Linked DNA regions of Homo sapiens. The protein of the gene in region 2 interacts with the protein of the main gene of each other region in a biochemical or structural test. Each region holds a gene or a part of one and is shown on either strand. Other genes may lie near its edges.

Region 1 (4,237 bases), on a different chromosome or scaffold from region 2:
ACTTATCCTTATTTATTTATTTATTTTTTGTTACTTAAAGACAGGATCTCAGCCAGACGCGGTGGCTCATGCCTGTAATCTCAGCACTTTGGGAGACCAAGGCAGGTGGATCACTTGAGGCCTGGAGTTCGAGACCAGCCTGGCCAACATGGTGAAACCCCTTCTCTGATAAAAAAAAAAATATACAAAAAGTAGACAAGCGTGGTGGCGGGCACCTGTAATCCCAGCTACTCAGGAGGCTGAGGCAGGAGAATCGCTTGAACCTGGGAGGCAGAGGTTGCAGTGAGCCAAGATCTCTCCACTGCACTTCAGCCAGGATGATAGAGGAAGACTCAGTCTCAAAAAAAAAAATAATAATAATAATAAATAAAATAAATAAATAAAGACAGGATCTCACTGTCATCCAGACTGGAGTGCAGTGGCACAATCACGTCTCACTACAGCCTCTAAATCCTGAGCTCAACAGATTCTCCCGCCTCAGCCTCCTGAGTAGTTGGGATCACAGGCACATGCCACCACACTCAGCTAATTTTTAAAATTTTTTTGTAGAGACAGGAGCCTTGTCATGTGGCCTAGGCTGGTGTCGAATGCCTATGCTCAAGCGATCCTCCTGCCTCAGCCTCCTAATGTGCTGGGATTACAGGCATGAGCCACCACACTCGACCTGTTATTGTTGGAGTCTCATTCTGTCACTCGGGTTGGAGTGCAGTGGCAGGATCATAGTTCACTGCAGACTTGAACACCTGGGCACGAGCAATCTTCCCACCTCAGCCTCCCAGGTAGCTGGGATTACAAGCATGCAGCACAGTGCCCAGCCAAAACTCTTTTTTTTTTTTTGAGACTGAGTCTCGCTCTGCCACCCAGGCTGGAGTGCAGTGGCACGGATCTCGGCTCACTGCAACCTCCGCCTCCCCGGTTCAAGCAATTCTCTGCTTTACCTTGCCAAATTACAGGTGCCTGCCACCACACCCAGCTAATTTTTGTATTTTTAGTAGAGATGGGGTTTCACCATCTTGGCCAGGCTGGTCTTGAACTCCTGACCTCATGATCCACCAGCCTCAGCCTCCCAAAGTGCTGGGATTACAGGCATGAGCCACCGTGCCTGGTGAAACTTTTTTTTATTTTTATTTTTGACACAGAGTCTCCCTCTGTTGCCCAGGCTGGAGTGCAGTGGTGCGATCTTGGCTTGCTGTAACCTCCGCCTCCTGGGTTCAAGAGATTCTCCCACCTCAGCCTCGGGAGTAGCTGGGATTACAGGCGTGTGCCACCACAACCGGCTAATTTTTGTATTTTTAGTAGAGATGGGGTTTCATCATATTGGCCAGGCTGGTCTTGAACTCCTGACCGCAAGGGATCCATCCGCCTCAGCCTCCCAAAGTGCTAGGATTACAGGCATGAGCCACCGTTTCCAACCCCGGCTGAAACTCTTATAAACAACTCTCATCTCTCCAAAACTTACTTGACACACAATTCTAACGTGACTTTGAACTCTTAGTTGGTAAGTAATTCTAATACTGCTGATATGGCAGTTGACCCTGTACTCCTAGTGCACCCCTTCCCCCCTATGGCTCACCTCTGGGCAGGAAATGCAGCAGAAGGCCCTGTGCCAGCATCATCTGGCCGCTGCGTAACATGCACCCCCAGCCACAGTCCGAGGTCAGGCAGCCCCCAGGAAGGGGCGGGAAGTCCCGGCGGTATGTGAGCCACAGGCGGGACACAAAGTCCCGCTGGAAACGCTGTATGTCACCTACAAGAGCGGGTCTGTCAGCTGCCACCAGGGACACTCCGGCGGGCGTGGAGAGGCCTCCCCCAGCCCTGGTCCCAACCACCAGCTCACCCTCGCCCTCGAAACGGTAGCGGCGGCCACAGAGGTGGATGCTGGAGATCTTGCTAAAGCTGGTCCGGCTTTTAACCACCCAACCTGGGGAGACGTAGGGGCAGCGCCCAGCGAGATGAAGCACTTGCATGACAGCAACAGCGCTTCCATTCCCCCATCTGTGAAATGGGCACGATCCTAGTTCCTATCTCCGGGGTGGCTCCGGGGATTCCGTCGGAGGTGGGGCCCCCAGTGACAGCTACAGGAGTGTCCACCATCAATTCAGGATGAAGGAAGGTAGTTCTGATTATTGTACCCATTTTACAGAGAGGGGCAAAAACGGAGGCGCCAGGAAGCAAAGGATCTTGCCCAAGGTCACACAGGGGAATGGGCGGGGCTTGAAAACACTATTGGACCTGCCACAGGTCCACCCTGGGCCGGGCAGGGAGGGGACCCACAGGTGACTCAGGACGGGAACAAGGGTGGGATAACTGGCAGGACCGGGGTCTGGTTTTCCTCAACGGCCCCCGACACCCCCACGATCTCCGGGCCCCCTCCTCACCGTACTTGACGTTGTTCCAGGCTGTCAGGAACTTGGCCTTGAACTTGTCCACTTCGTCCGGCTCACTCGGGCCAGCCCCGGGAGAGCCAAGAGCGGGGCCGCTGGCTCCGGAAGGCCCCAGGCCGTTGGGGTCTGGGCCTCTGGGACCCCGCGGCCTGCGGGCCTCGGGCCGGCGGCGCGCGTCCTCCGGGCTGCTGCTCCGGTACTGCGCGGCGGCCGGCGACACTGAGTTCATGGACGCGCCGGGAGGGCGGACCGAGGGCCCAGGTGGGGGGCTGCGGCCGCTGCCCCCCAAGGGCGACCCGCAGCCGGTTCACGGGGCCCGGGGAAGGCGCTACTCGGCCCCCGTCCCCAGGGTACCGGGCCAGGCAACAGCCGCCGCCGCTGCTACCGCAGCCATCGCCATCTTAGCGGGCCAGGACCCCGGATGACGGTGGGCGTGGCCAAGCCAGACGCCCCGCCCCGCCCTCTCCCCGCCCAGCCGCCTTTCCTGCCCCGATCCCGGGTCGCCAGGCGGGGACCTCAAACCCCGACGCCTTCCCGCGGCCTCCCCCCGCCCTCCTTATCACACCGCCAGGAGCGCGACAGCCCCTTCAGGCCCTTATCGGAGGCAGCAGAGCTGGGGAACCCCTGCCCCTGGCCCCGCCCCTAGTCCTGCCCCCCAGGGCCCAGGACTGACCTCCTGGCAGGCGCCCAGGTGAGACTGACTGCGCACCTGCAGCGCCCGCCCCGCCTCCCGAGTGCACCTGCGCGGGCTGCCGACCCAGAACCCGCCCTGGCCTGGGACCAAATCGACTAGTGTGACCTCCGGGGCAAGCCACGCCTCTCTGTGCCTCAGTTTCCTCATGTGCAAAATAGGGCTGGAATACACGCAACAACATAGACGAATCTTCATGAGAATTATGCTCAGGGAAAAAAAATCCAGGGGTAGGCAGGCGCGGGAGGGAGGGATGAATGAAGTGCTCCAGGAAAGTTTTTTTCAGTGTTTGTTTTGTCGAGACAGCATCTGGCTCTGTTGTCCAGACTGGAGTGCAGTGGCGCTTTCATAGCTCACTGCAGCCTCCAACTCTGATCCTCCAACCTCAGCCTCCAGAGTAGCTGAGACCGCAGACAGGAGCCACCATGCCTGGTTAATTTTTTAAATTTTATTTGTAGATAAGGGGTCTCGCTATGTTGTCTAGGCTGGTCTCAAACTCCTGGCTTCATGAGATCCTCCCGCCTCAGCCTCCCAAATGCTGGGATTACAGGCGTGAGCCACCACCTCAGGCAGGAAGACATTTTTTGGAGCTGTGGATAAATTCAGTATCTTAACTGTAATAGTGGCTTCACAGGTGTGAAAACTCATCAGATTGTACGCTTAAAATTTGCATGGTTTTGTATATGTCTATTATACCTCAATAAGGCTGAAAAAAAACCTCTTTGTTTTAAAAAGTAATCAGTTAACTTTTTATAGAGACAAGTTCTCTCTATGTTGCCCAGGCTGGCCTGAAACTCCTTAGCTCAAGTGATCCTCCTGCCTCAGCCTCCCAAGTAGCTGAGACTACAGGAAAATATTTTATTTTATTTTATTTTTTAATTTTTTTTCTCTAACCTTGCGAGGCCCAAACAGATTTTGGTTGTTGTTGTTGAGACAGGGTCTTGCTCTGTCATCCAGACTACAGTGCAGTGGCCTGATCATGGCTCACTGCAGTCTCAACTGCCGAGGCTTAAGCAAGTCTCCTGCCTCAGCCACCTGAGTAGCTAGGACTATAGGCACATGCCACCACCCCTGGCTAATTTTTTTTTTTTTTTTTGAGACGGAGTCTCGTTCTGTTGCCCAGGTTGGAGTGCAATGGCGCGATCTCGACTCACTGCAAGCT
Region 2 (2,626 bases):
ACTTTTGCATCTTACCTTCTGCGTGTTTGCTCTTCTTGCCTATTGAAAGGGGAGTCCAGAAAGTAAAACTTTCAATAATTCAGTGTTCGTGAAGCTGGTCCCCGGCCAGCTTTGCTGAAAGCAGGGGGTGTACGCATAGCACACATTCGTCCTTCAGCATCATTTCTTCTGAAACCAAAGGTGTCTTTTTTTTTTTATTTGTATGACTAATAAGACTTATGTAAGTTTATGCTTATTTTTGCCTTTATGACTACATAATAATTTATAGAATCAACTAAAATCAGCTATCCATGGTATTTTGCTTGTATTTTGCCTTTTAGGTTATTATTCTTGGCGAAATTCAAAGGATGGCTCCTGGTTCATCCAGTCGCTTTGTGCCATGCTGAAACAGTATGCCGACAAGCTTGAATTTATGCACATTCTTACCCGGGTTAACCGAAAGGTGGCAACAGAATTTGAGTCCTTTTCCTTTGACGCTACTTTTCATGCAAAGAAACAGATTCCATGTATTGTTTCCATGCTCACAAAAGAACTCTATTTTTATCACTAAAGAAATGGTTGGTTGGTGGTTTTTTTTAGTTTGTATGCCAAGTGAGAAGATGGTATATTTGGTACTGTATTTCCCTCTCATTTTGACCTACTCTCATGCTGCAGAGGGTACTTTAAGACATACTCCTTCCATCAAATAGAACCACTATGAAGCTACCTCAAACTTCCAGTCAGGTAGTTGCAATTGAATTAAATTAGGAATAAATAAAAATGGATACTGGTGCAGTCATTATGAGAGGCAATGATTGTTAATTTACAGCTTTCATGATTAGCAAGTTACAGTGATGCTGTGCTATGAATTTTCAAGTAATTGTGAAAAAGTTAAACATTGAAGTAATGAATTTTTATGATATTCCCCCCACTTAAGACTGTGTATTCTAGTTTTGTCAAACTGTAGAAATGATGATGTGGAAGAACTTAGGCATCTGTGGGCATGGTCAAAGGCTCAAACCTTTATTTTAGAATTGATATACACGGATGACTTAACTGCATTTTTAGACCATTTATCTGGGATTATGGTTTTGTGATGTTTGTCCTGAACACTTTTGTTGTAAAAAAATAATAATAATGTTTAATATTGAGAAAGAAACTAATATTTTATGTGAGAGAAAGTGTGAGCAAACTAACTTGACTTTTAAGGCTAAAACTTAACATTCATAGAGGGGTGGAGTTTTAACTGTAAGGTGCTACAATGCCCCTGGATCTACCAGCATAAATATCTTCTGATTTGTCCCTATGCATATCAGTTGAGCTTCATATACCAGCAATATATCTGAAGAGCTATTATATAAAAACCCCAAACTGTTGATTATTAGCCAGGTAATGTGAATAAATTCTATAGGAACATATGAAAATACAACTTAAATAATAAACAGTGGAATATAAGGAAAGCAATAAATGAATGGGCTGAGCTGCCTGTAACTTGAGAGTAGATGGTTTGAGCCTGAGCAGAGACATGACTCAGCCTGTTCCATGAAGGCAGAGCCATGGACCACGCAGGAAGGGCCTACAGCCCATTTCTCCATACGCACTGGTATGTGTGGATGATGCTGCCAGGGCGCCATCGCCAAGTAAGAAAGTGAAGCAAATCAGAAACTTGTGAAGTGGAAATGTTCTAAAGGTGGTGAGGCAATAAAAATCATAGTACTCTTTGTAGCAAAATTCTTAAGTATGTTATTTTCTGTTGAAGTTTACAATCAAAGGAAAATAGTAATGTTTTATACTGTTTACTGAAAGAAAAAGACCTATGAGCACATAGGACTCTAGACGGCATCCAGCCGGAGGCCAGAGCTGAGCCCTCAGCCCGGGAGGCAGGCTCCAGGCCTCAGCAGGTGCGGAGCCGTCACTGCACCAAGTCTCACTGGCTGTCAGTATGACATTTCACGGGAGATTTCTTGTTGCTCAAAAAATGAGCTCGCATTTGTCAATGACAGTTTCTTTTTTCTTACTAGACCTGTAACTTTTGTAAATACACATAGCATGTAATGGTATCTTAAAGTGTGTTTCTATGTGACAATTTTGTACAAATTTGTTATTTTCCATTTTTATTTCAAAATATACATTCAAACTTAAAATTACCAATGTCTTTGAGTTTTTTGTTGCTGTTGTTTTTGATGTTGTGCCACTAATTGGAAGTTAAAATGTTTTTAATCAGAAGCTTGATTTGGAAGAGTCAAAGAGGAAGCACCAGAACCCTAGCCTAGTTTTTTGAGGTGGTGGCAGTTAGATCAGGGCAGACAGATCGCTTATGCTTCCCAAGTCCTCGCAGAAGTTCCTGACCCTGAAATGACCACAATGCCAGGAAGATACTTTGTTTGCATAGATCTCAGGCCTTAAATATGACCATATGTGTGAATTTGAAACTTTTTCCACAAGATAAGTGTCTAATGGGAAGAACAACCTAAGAGGATATACAACAAGCCGTTGATGTTTACTGATGGCCTCCTCTGGGCGCTGGGATTTTGACAGAGGAATTTGCTGTCTTTTTACTTCATATGCTTAGAAAAGGAATATAGGAAAGTGGGGTTGTGGGTGGTTTTAAATTTCTTCCAATATTTCTGTAATGAAAATATATTAC
Region 3 (3,500 bases), about 110 Mb from region 2:
AAGAACAAAGCTGGAAAAATCACACTACCCCACTTCAAACTATACTACAAAGCTACACTAACCAAAACAGCCTATTACAGACATGGAGCAATGGAACAGGATAGAGAACCCAAAACTAAAGCCACACACCTACAACCATCTGATCTTTGACAAAATTGACAGTAACAAGCAATGGAGAAAGGACTACCTATCCAATAAATGGTGCTGGGATAACTGGATAGCCTTATGCAGAAGAATGAAACTGGGCCCTTACCTTTTACCATATACAAAAATTAACTCAAGATGGATTAAAGACATAAATATAAGACCTAAAACTATAAAAAGCCGAGAAGAGGCTGGGCATGGTGGCTTACGCCTGTAATCCCAGCACTTTGGGAGGTCAAGGTGGGAGGATCACGAGGTCAGGAGATCGAGACCATCCTGGCCAACATGGTGAAACCCTGTCTCTACTAAAAATACAAAAATTATCTGGGTGTGGTGGTGTGCATCTGTAGTCCCAGCTACTTGGGAGGCTGAAGCAGGAGAATCGCTTGAATCCGGGAGGCAGAGGTTGCAGTGAGCCAATCGCACCATTGCACTCACTCCAGCCTGGGTGACAGGGCCAGACTCCTACTCAAAAAAAAAAAAAAAAAAAAAAAAAATCCTCGAAGAAAATCTAGGAGATATCATCCTGGACATTGGCCTTGGCAAAGAATTTATGACTAAGTGCCCAAAAGCAATTGTGACAAAAACAAAAATTGACAAGTGGGACCTAATTATACTAAAGAGCTTCTGCACAGCAAAAGAAACTATCAACAGAGTAAACAAACAACTTATAACCTGGGAGAAAACATCTGCAAACCATGCATCTGACAAAGGTCTAATATTCAGAATCTGTAAGGAACTTAATTCAACAGGCAAAAACCAAAAACTCTTAAAAAATGGGCAAAGGACATGAACAGACACTTCTCCAAACAATACATATACATAGGCAAGAAATATATGGAAAAATGTTCCACACCACTAAATCATCTGACAAATGCAAGTCAAAACCACAGTGAAATACCATCTCCCACCAGTCAGAATGACTATTATTAAAAAGACAAAACAAACAAACAAAAAACAGATGTTAGAGAGGTTATAGAGAAAAGGGAATGCTATATACTGTTGGTGGGAATGTAATTTTAGTTCAGTCACTGTAGAGAGCAGTTGGGATATCTCTCAAAGAACTTAAAACAGAACTACCATTCGACCCAGCAGTCTCACTACTGTATTTTTTCAACAAATATTTGTCATGCAGCTAATACAGACTTAATTTATTTTTTTTAATTTTTTTTTTGAGACAGAGTCTCACTGTGTTGCCCAGGCTGGACTGCAGTGGCGTGATCTCGGCTCACTGCAACCTCTGCCTCCTGGGTTCAAGCTATTCTCCTGCCTCAGCCTCCCAAGTAGCTGGGACTACAGGTGCCCGCCACCACGCCCGGCTAATTTTTGTATTTGTAGTAGAGACGGGGTTTCACCATATTGGCCAGGCTGGTCTCGAACTCCTGACCTTGTAATCTGCCCGCCTCGGCCTCCCAAAGTGCTAAGATTATAGGCATGAGCCACCGCACCCGGCCCTACAGACGTGATTTTATGATATAACCTTACCTTCATGAAGCTTAAAACATTCCTAAAACAGAACTCCCCCAACTATGACTTTTTTTTTTTTTTTTTTTTTTAGATGGAATCTCGCTCTGTCGCCAGGCTGGAGTGCAGTGGCGCGATCTTGGCTCACTGCAACCTCCAACTCCCTGGTTCAAGTGATTCTCCTGCCTCAGCTTCCCAAGTAGCTGGGATTACAGGCACAGGTGCCACCATGCCCAGCTAATTTTTGTATTTTTAGTAGAGACGGGGTTTCACCATGTTGGCCAGGATGGTCTTGATCTCCTCACCTCGTGATCTGCCCGCCTCAGCCTCCCAAAGTGCTGGGATTACAGGCTTGAGCCACTGCGTCCAGTAACTATGACTATTTATTGTAAGACTAAAATAATCCATGCTAATAGTCATTTCAATTATAATGTTTTTAATGAAATAAGGGAAAATAAAGAAAAATAAATCATTCTATCAAAAAGCCATATGCACTTGCATATTCACTGGAGCACTATTCACAACTGCAAAGATGTGGAGTCAACCTAGGTGTCCATCAATAGTGGACTGGATAAAGAAAATGCAGTACATATATGCCATGGAATACTATGTCGACATGAAAAAGAATAAAATCATGCCCTTTGCAGCAACATAGATGCAGCTGGTAGCCATTATCCTAAGCGAATTAATATAGGAACAGAAAACCAAATACTGCATTTCCTCACTTACAAGTGGGAGCTAAACAATGAGTAAGCACGGACCTAAAGATGGGAGCAGTCAACACTGGGGACAACAACGGGGGGAAGGTGGGAGAGGGGGCGAGAGTTAAGAAACTACCCATCAGGTACCATCCTCACTACCTGGGTGATGGTTATACATCAAACCTTAGCAACAGGCAATTTACCCATGTAACAACTTGCACATGTAACCTTCTAAAACTTTAAAGTTATGGGGAAAAAATATTGTTTAGAGAAATGTTTATTTTCATAAACACATTTGCTTATGAAACAATACTAATTTACGTTTAATCGTTTATAAAAATATAAAAGCAAAAAAATTAAAGGACACTAGTGTAATACAGCTTGCAGTATTTTTTCACAATTCTTTTTTTTAAGTATTCAGTAACTACTTAACTGACAGGAAAAAATAAAGAACAGGAATGGCAATTAAAATGCTAACTCTAATCAATCAATCATTTATCCAACAAATATTTGTCAAGCACCTAATATTGATTTAATTTTATGATATAATCTTACCTTGAAATTTAAAACATAGTTGTACCTTCCTAAAACAGAATTTCCCTAACTGTAAGACAAATAATTCATGCTAATAGTCAATTCACTTATGTTTTAGATGAAATAAAAATATTATTGTTTTAGATTACAAAAGTCATTTTTTTTTTTTTTTGAGACGGAGTCTCACTCCATTGCCCAGGCTAGAGTGCAGTGGTGCGATCTTGGCTCATTGTAACCTCCACCTCGTGGGTTCAAGTGATTCTCCTGCCTCAGCCTCCCTAGTAGCTGGGATTACAGGCACCTGCCACCATGTCCAGCTAATTTTTGTATTTTTAGCAGAGACAGGGTTTCGTCATGTTGGCCAGGCTGGTCTCAAACTCCTGACCTCAGGTGATCCACCCGCCTCAGCCTACCAAAGTGCTGGGATTACAGGCGTGAGCCACCAGGCCTGGCCCAGAAATTTGTTTTAAATTTAACTCTGTTACTGAGAAGACTTTATTAAAACAGCAAAAGCAAATCTTATCTTCATATGACCTAAATTATTATAATCTATAAAAAGAGATGTGGGAACATTAAAAAATCAAACACAAGTCTCTTTGTAGACAAATCCAATGAATCCATTTCCATTATAGTTACCTTAAGTCAGCCAAGTAATAT
Region 4 (3,500 bases), on a different chromosome or scaffold from region 2:
CATATTTGTTCTTCAGAGACACGGATGAGCTGGGACAGAAAATAGGGGAAGACAACAGGCCAAGGCCACTCTGTGTTACTTTTCCTGAAGTCAGAATCAGTTGAGGCACACACTGGGGCCTGCAGGCATCGAGTGAGCCGCGTGGAGGAACATGTTGTGTCTGCCGTTTTTGAATACCCAGGGTGGGAGCTTGGCCATCTGCATCCCCACTTCCCATAGCCCAGGCAGAGGGACAGAGAAATGGAGTGGGGAGCACAGAGCAGGCTCCAACAAGACAAATTCCCTGCTGCCAAACCACCATGATCCACTCTGACTTTGGTCACAAACTCTGCTAAAAACAATTCTCTACGTTCACTGTTCCCAAGGGTCATTCTAAACAGTGGTGGCCACCACCCCTTAGAAGCAAGAGAAAAAGAAAAAAGGCAAATAAATGCAGAAGGCAGCCAGAGCCTCCCAGATGCCCCTGCTCAGGACCCTTCCCCGCAGCTTGGCAGTGGCCACTCAGGGCTTGGCCACAGGCAGGGCTTGGCTCAGTATCCTGTCAGGGGCAAGAGCCAAGCTGTCTGGGAGGGTCGGGGGATGCAGGAAGGATGTGTGGGAATCACCAGGCCATTGCTGCATTTGGGGTGACAGGCTGAGTCTGCCAAGCCGGAGGGAGCCCTGAGGCCTCATCCTCACTGGGGGTCCTATTCCTGGAAGAGTGCTGAATGTCAACTCCCAGGCCTCCTCTTCCAGCAATAAGGAAGCCATGTCTGAGAGGGGAAGGGCAAGATGTGCCCTCAGCCTCACTCAATGAGCTCCACGTAGTTGGCAGGGAACATGCCAAAATGGCCATCCGGCCCATAGCCACGCCACCAGCCTTCGTCGATCACCTCGATGCCCGTGATGAGGTTCTCGGGGTCAAAGGAGATCTCTGTGTCGTCGGCTGCAAAGAGGATGAGCCCAGATGCATATCAGGGGCTCCCTCCCACATCCCACCTGCTCGGGCAGCCCACGGCAGCCCCACACTGCTGCAGCACACCTCGCTGCAGCTCTGGTTCCTCCTCAGAAATATCCCTGCCACCCTGCTAAGCCTTGGCCAACACTGCACCCTGTCCCAATGCGGCTCCAGTGACCACACCCCCAGGGCATACCCTCCTACAGAGCATTCCCAAAAAAGGCTAGAGTAGACACCAGCCTGCTCCGTAGGGGGCCTCCACCCCATTCTCCAAGGCCTCCACCCAGGGACGCCTGGTGAACCAGCATCCAGGCCTGGCCCACCTCCCTGCTCAGAGTCCATGTTCTGTGACAAGGGTGGCAACTGGGATTCACATCAGCGGCCAGCAAATAGCTAATGAGGAACATGTAGGGAGGCCTGGGCTGTGCAGAACACTCTAGTGCCACAGTCACCCCCACTCCAGAGGTGCTTCTACCCCTAAACGCACCGCCCACCCTCCTGTCTTCTCTTCCTGATACCCCCTGGTGCCATCTTCCCATAAAACCCCAGACCCTCTTGTCTCCTAACCTCAGGACCCTGTGGTCTGTGCCAGCCAGGCCAGGGCACCTTACCTGCCTGGTAGTCGTACAGGGCACGGGCACAGAGCCCTTGCCCACTGAGCCCCTGGCCCTGAATGTGGTGGTCAATGTGCTCAGAGCCAGCACCTTGCTGCTGCACCTGCCCAGGGATGACAAAGGTGTTACCCCAGACTCAGCCCTTACACACAATCGCTGCTCTGCCCCACATGGCTCAGGTCAAGCTGGGAGTACGCAGAGGGCAAGCAGTCTACAGGCTCGGGGGCTGGGCTGCTGCTGTCCCCGCCCTACCAGAGTACAGAAGCCACAGGACAGTGCATAAATCCCTCAGCCATAGGCTGCAAGGTCCTCTTCCCACCCAGCACCTCCTATAGAGTGGGGCGTGCCCTGACAATTTATAACACAGGGCTGCTCCAAAAATGCATGTGCTTTAAAACCTGTTGCATGCCCCCAGAAAACTCAGGCGGCCCGTGATAAGTGTTCCTGAGTATGCAGCCCCTTCCTGGCCCCAGCCCCAGTGTAGGAACCCACCAGTGGGGGCTGCTCGTAGAAGGTCTCCTGCTCTGGAGGTTCCTCATACACAGCCTCCTCTTCTGCCTGCACCAGACATGGAGGAGTGCTGGGCGCCGGCTCCTCAGCAGGGAGATCTGCACCAGGGAACACAGCAGGTTCTCACTCCCACACATCCCCCTTCTCCACTGCTGTCCCCCAGGGTCCCCATGGGGTGACAAGCGCCTTGCCTGCCCTGGGCCTTGAGATGGCAGCAGCTGGCTCTCTGCCAAAGTGGGTCTCTGGTTGGGTGAGCTGCTTCTGCAGGAAGGGGCTCCTCAGCTTGCCTGCAAACCCGGGTAAATATATACATCACTTCAGAAACACCACCACACACCCACGCACCCCACAGCACCCTCCACCCTGGTGTGCTCGAGGCAGTCTCATGGGGCTTGCTCTTGCTAGTGCAGGAACAGAGGCCCCAGGGCCATGTGCTATGTGGTGACGTGGTAGACAGCGCAGCCCAATATCTTTTGGAGGCCAAACTGGTGACCAGTGTGGTCACTGATGAGGTCAATGGCCCCAGGTGTCCCTTCTCCTCACTCACTCACCCGTCACCGATATATCTGTCACTAGCCTTGGGGGAGCCCACATAGGACCCCAGGCTCCCCCTCAGCCTGCTGCTGCCTCATGGCCAGGCCCAAAGGGAGAGCTCACCAGGCTGAGGACTGGAGATGGAGGTGGTGGACATGGCCCTCTCCTTCTGCTTGAAAATCTCCCTCGGGTGCACGGCAGACTCCTGGAGGGAAGCACATGTTGACCCCTGCAGTGGGCAAAACCTTCACCACCTCTCCCCAGATCACAGCCCCTCCAGCTGTCGGCCCAGTAGCCCCTCAAAGGTGAGTGTGGGGCCAGGAGGCAAAACATGTTCTCAGGAGAGAAGTCATTTAAAAATAAAAAGTAACGTTAAAAAAGGAAGTAAAACACAGAAGCCAAGGGGCTCCCAGGGCCTCCCCCAGGACCAGGTGTGGTCCAAGCCCGACGCTTCCGCCTTTGGCTTTCCTCTCTACTGCCACCTCTTGAGGTGCCCAGATTCCAACCTGCCCCAGCTGACTGCAGGGCAGCCTCTGCCCAGGTCTGGGCTGGGCCCTCAATCCGAGATCAGGGACTTCTGCGTGTGGCCAGGACAGGTCCAAACAAGTAGAGCACCCCCATCTTACCTGCTCATTTCGGTTCCTTGAAACCACTTCTTGCTGCTGCTCCCACGTCCTGCTGGGAAGGGCCGGGTGGGGCACAGCTGAGGCACAGTCACAGCTTCTCATGCCACACCCCTTAGTCCTCCTCGCCTCCATGGGATGGAGCAGGTGCCCAGCAATGCCTCAGGGTGGGTCCCCCAGGCCAGCCTCCACCTCTGGCTCACCTCTGGGGGCTGGCCTCGCCACCCTGCTCCTGATAGCGCTGCTCCCGGCGTGCAGCCTCACGCAGCTCACGCTCCCGGC

What was found.
Region 1: of the proteins of CASP3 (region 2) and ATG4D, one has a biochemical effect on the other in vitro, tested with the Homo sapiens proteins (one study listed by BioGRID).
Region 3: of the proteins of CASP3 (region 2) and USO1, one has a biochemical effect on the other in vitro, tested with the Homo sapiens proteins (one study listed by BioGRID).
Region 4: of the proteins of CASP3 (region 2) and DBNL, one has a biochemical effect on the other in vitro, tested with the Homo sapiens proteins (one study listed by BioGRID).

The regions. Positions count from the first base shown.
Region 1 is NC_000019.10:10,542,467-10,546,703, reverse strand, and holds the start of ATG4D (cysteine protease ATG4D isoform 1 precursor), read right to left. Parts: upstream 2,801-4,237; 5' UTR 2,614-2,800; coding exon 2,379-2,613; intron 1,996-2,378; exon of another isoform or gene 1,968-1,995; coding exon of another isoform or gene 1,922-1,967; coding exon 1,838-1,921; intron 1,748-1,837; coding exon 1,574-1,747; intron 1-1,573.
Region 2 is NC_000004.12:184,627,196-184,629,821, reverse strand, and holds the end of CASP3 (caspase-3 isoform a preproprotein), read left to right. Parts: intron 1-320; coding exon 321-550; 3' UTR 551-2,126; downstream 2,127-2,626. UniProt on the Homo sapiens protein: Thiol protease that acts as a major effector caspase involved in the execution phase of apoptosis. Following cleavage and activation by initiator caspases (CASP8, CASP9 and/or CASP10), mediates execution of apoptosis by catalyzing cleavage of many proteins.
Region 3 is NC_000004.12:75,731,077-75,734,576, reverse strand, and holds part of USO1 (general vesicular transport factor p115), read right to left. Parts: intron 1-3,500. UniProt on the Homo sapiens protein: General vesicular transport factor required for intercisternal transport in the Golgi stack; it is required for transcytotic fusion and/or subsequent binding of the vesicles to the target membrane.
Region 4 is NC_000007.14:44,058,202-44,061,701, reverse strand, and holds part of DBNL (drebrin-like protein), read right to left. Parts: coding exon 3,422-3,500; intron 3,274-3,421; coding exon of another isoform or gene 3,271-3,273; coding exon 3,222-3,270; intron 2,825-3,221; coding exon of another isoform or gene 2,801-2,824; coding exon 2,719-2,800; intron 2,349-2,718; coding exon 2,253-2,348; intron 2,160-2,252; coding exon 2,044-2,159; intron 1,655-2,043; coding exon 1,549-1,654; intron 926-1,548; coding exon 786-925; 3' UTR 1-785. UniProt on the Homo sapiens protein: Adapter protein that binds F-actin and DNM1, and thereby plays a role in receptor-mediated endocytosis.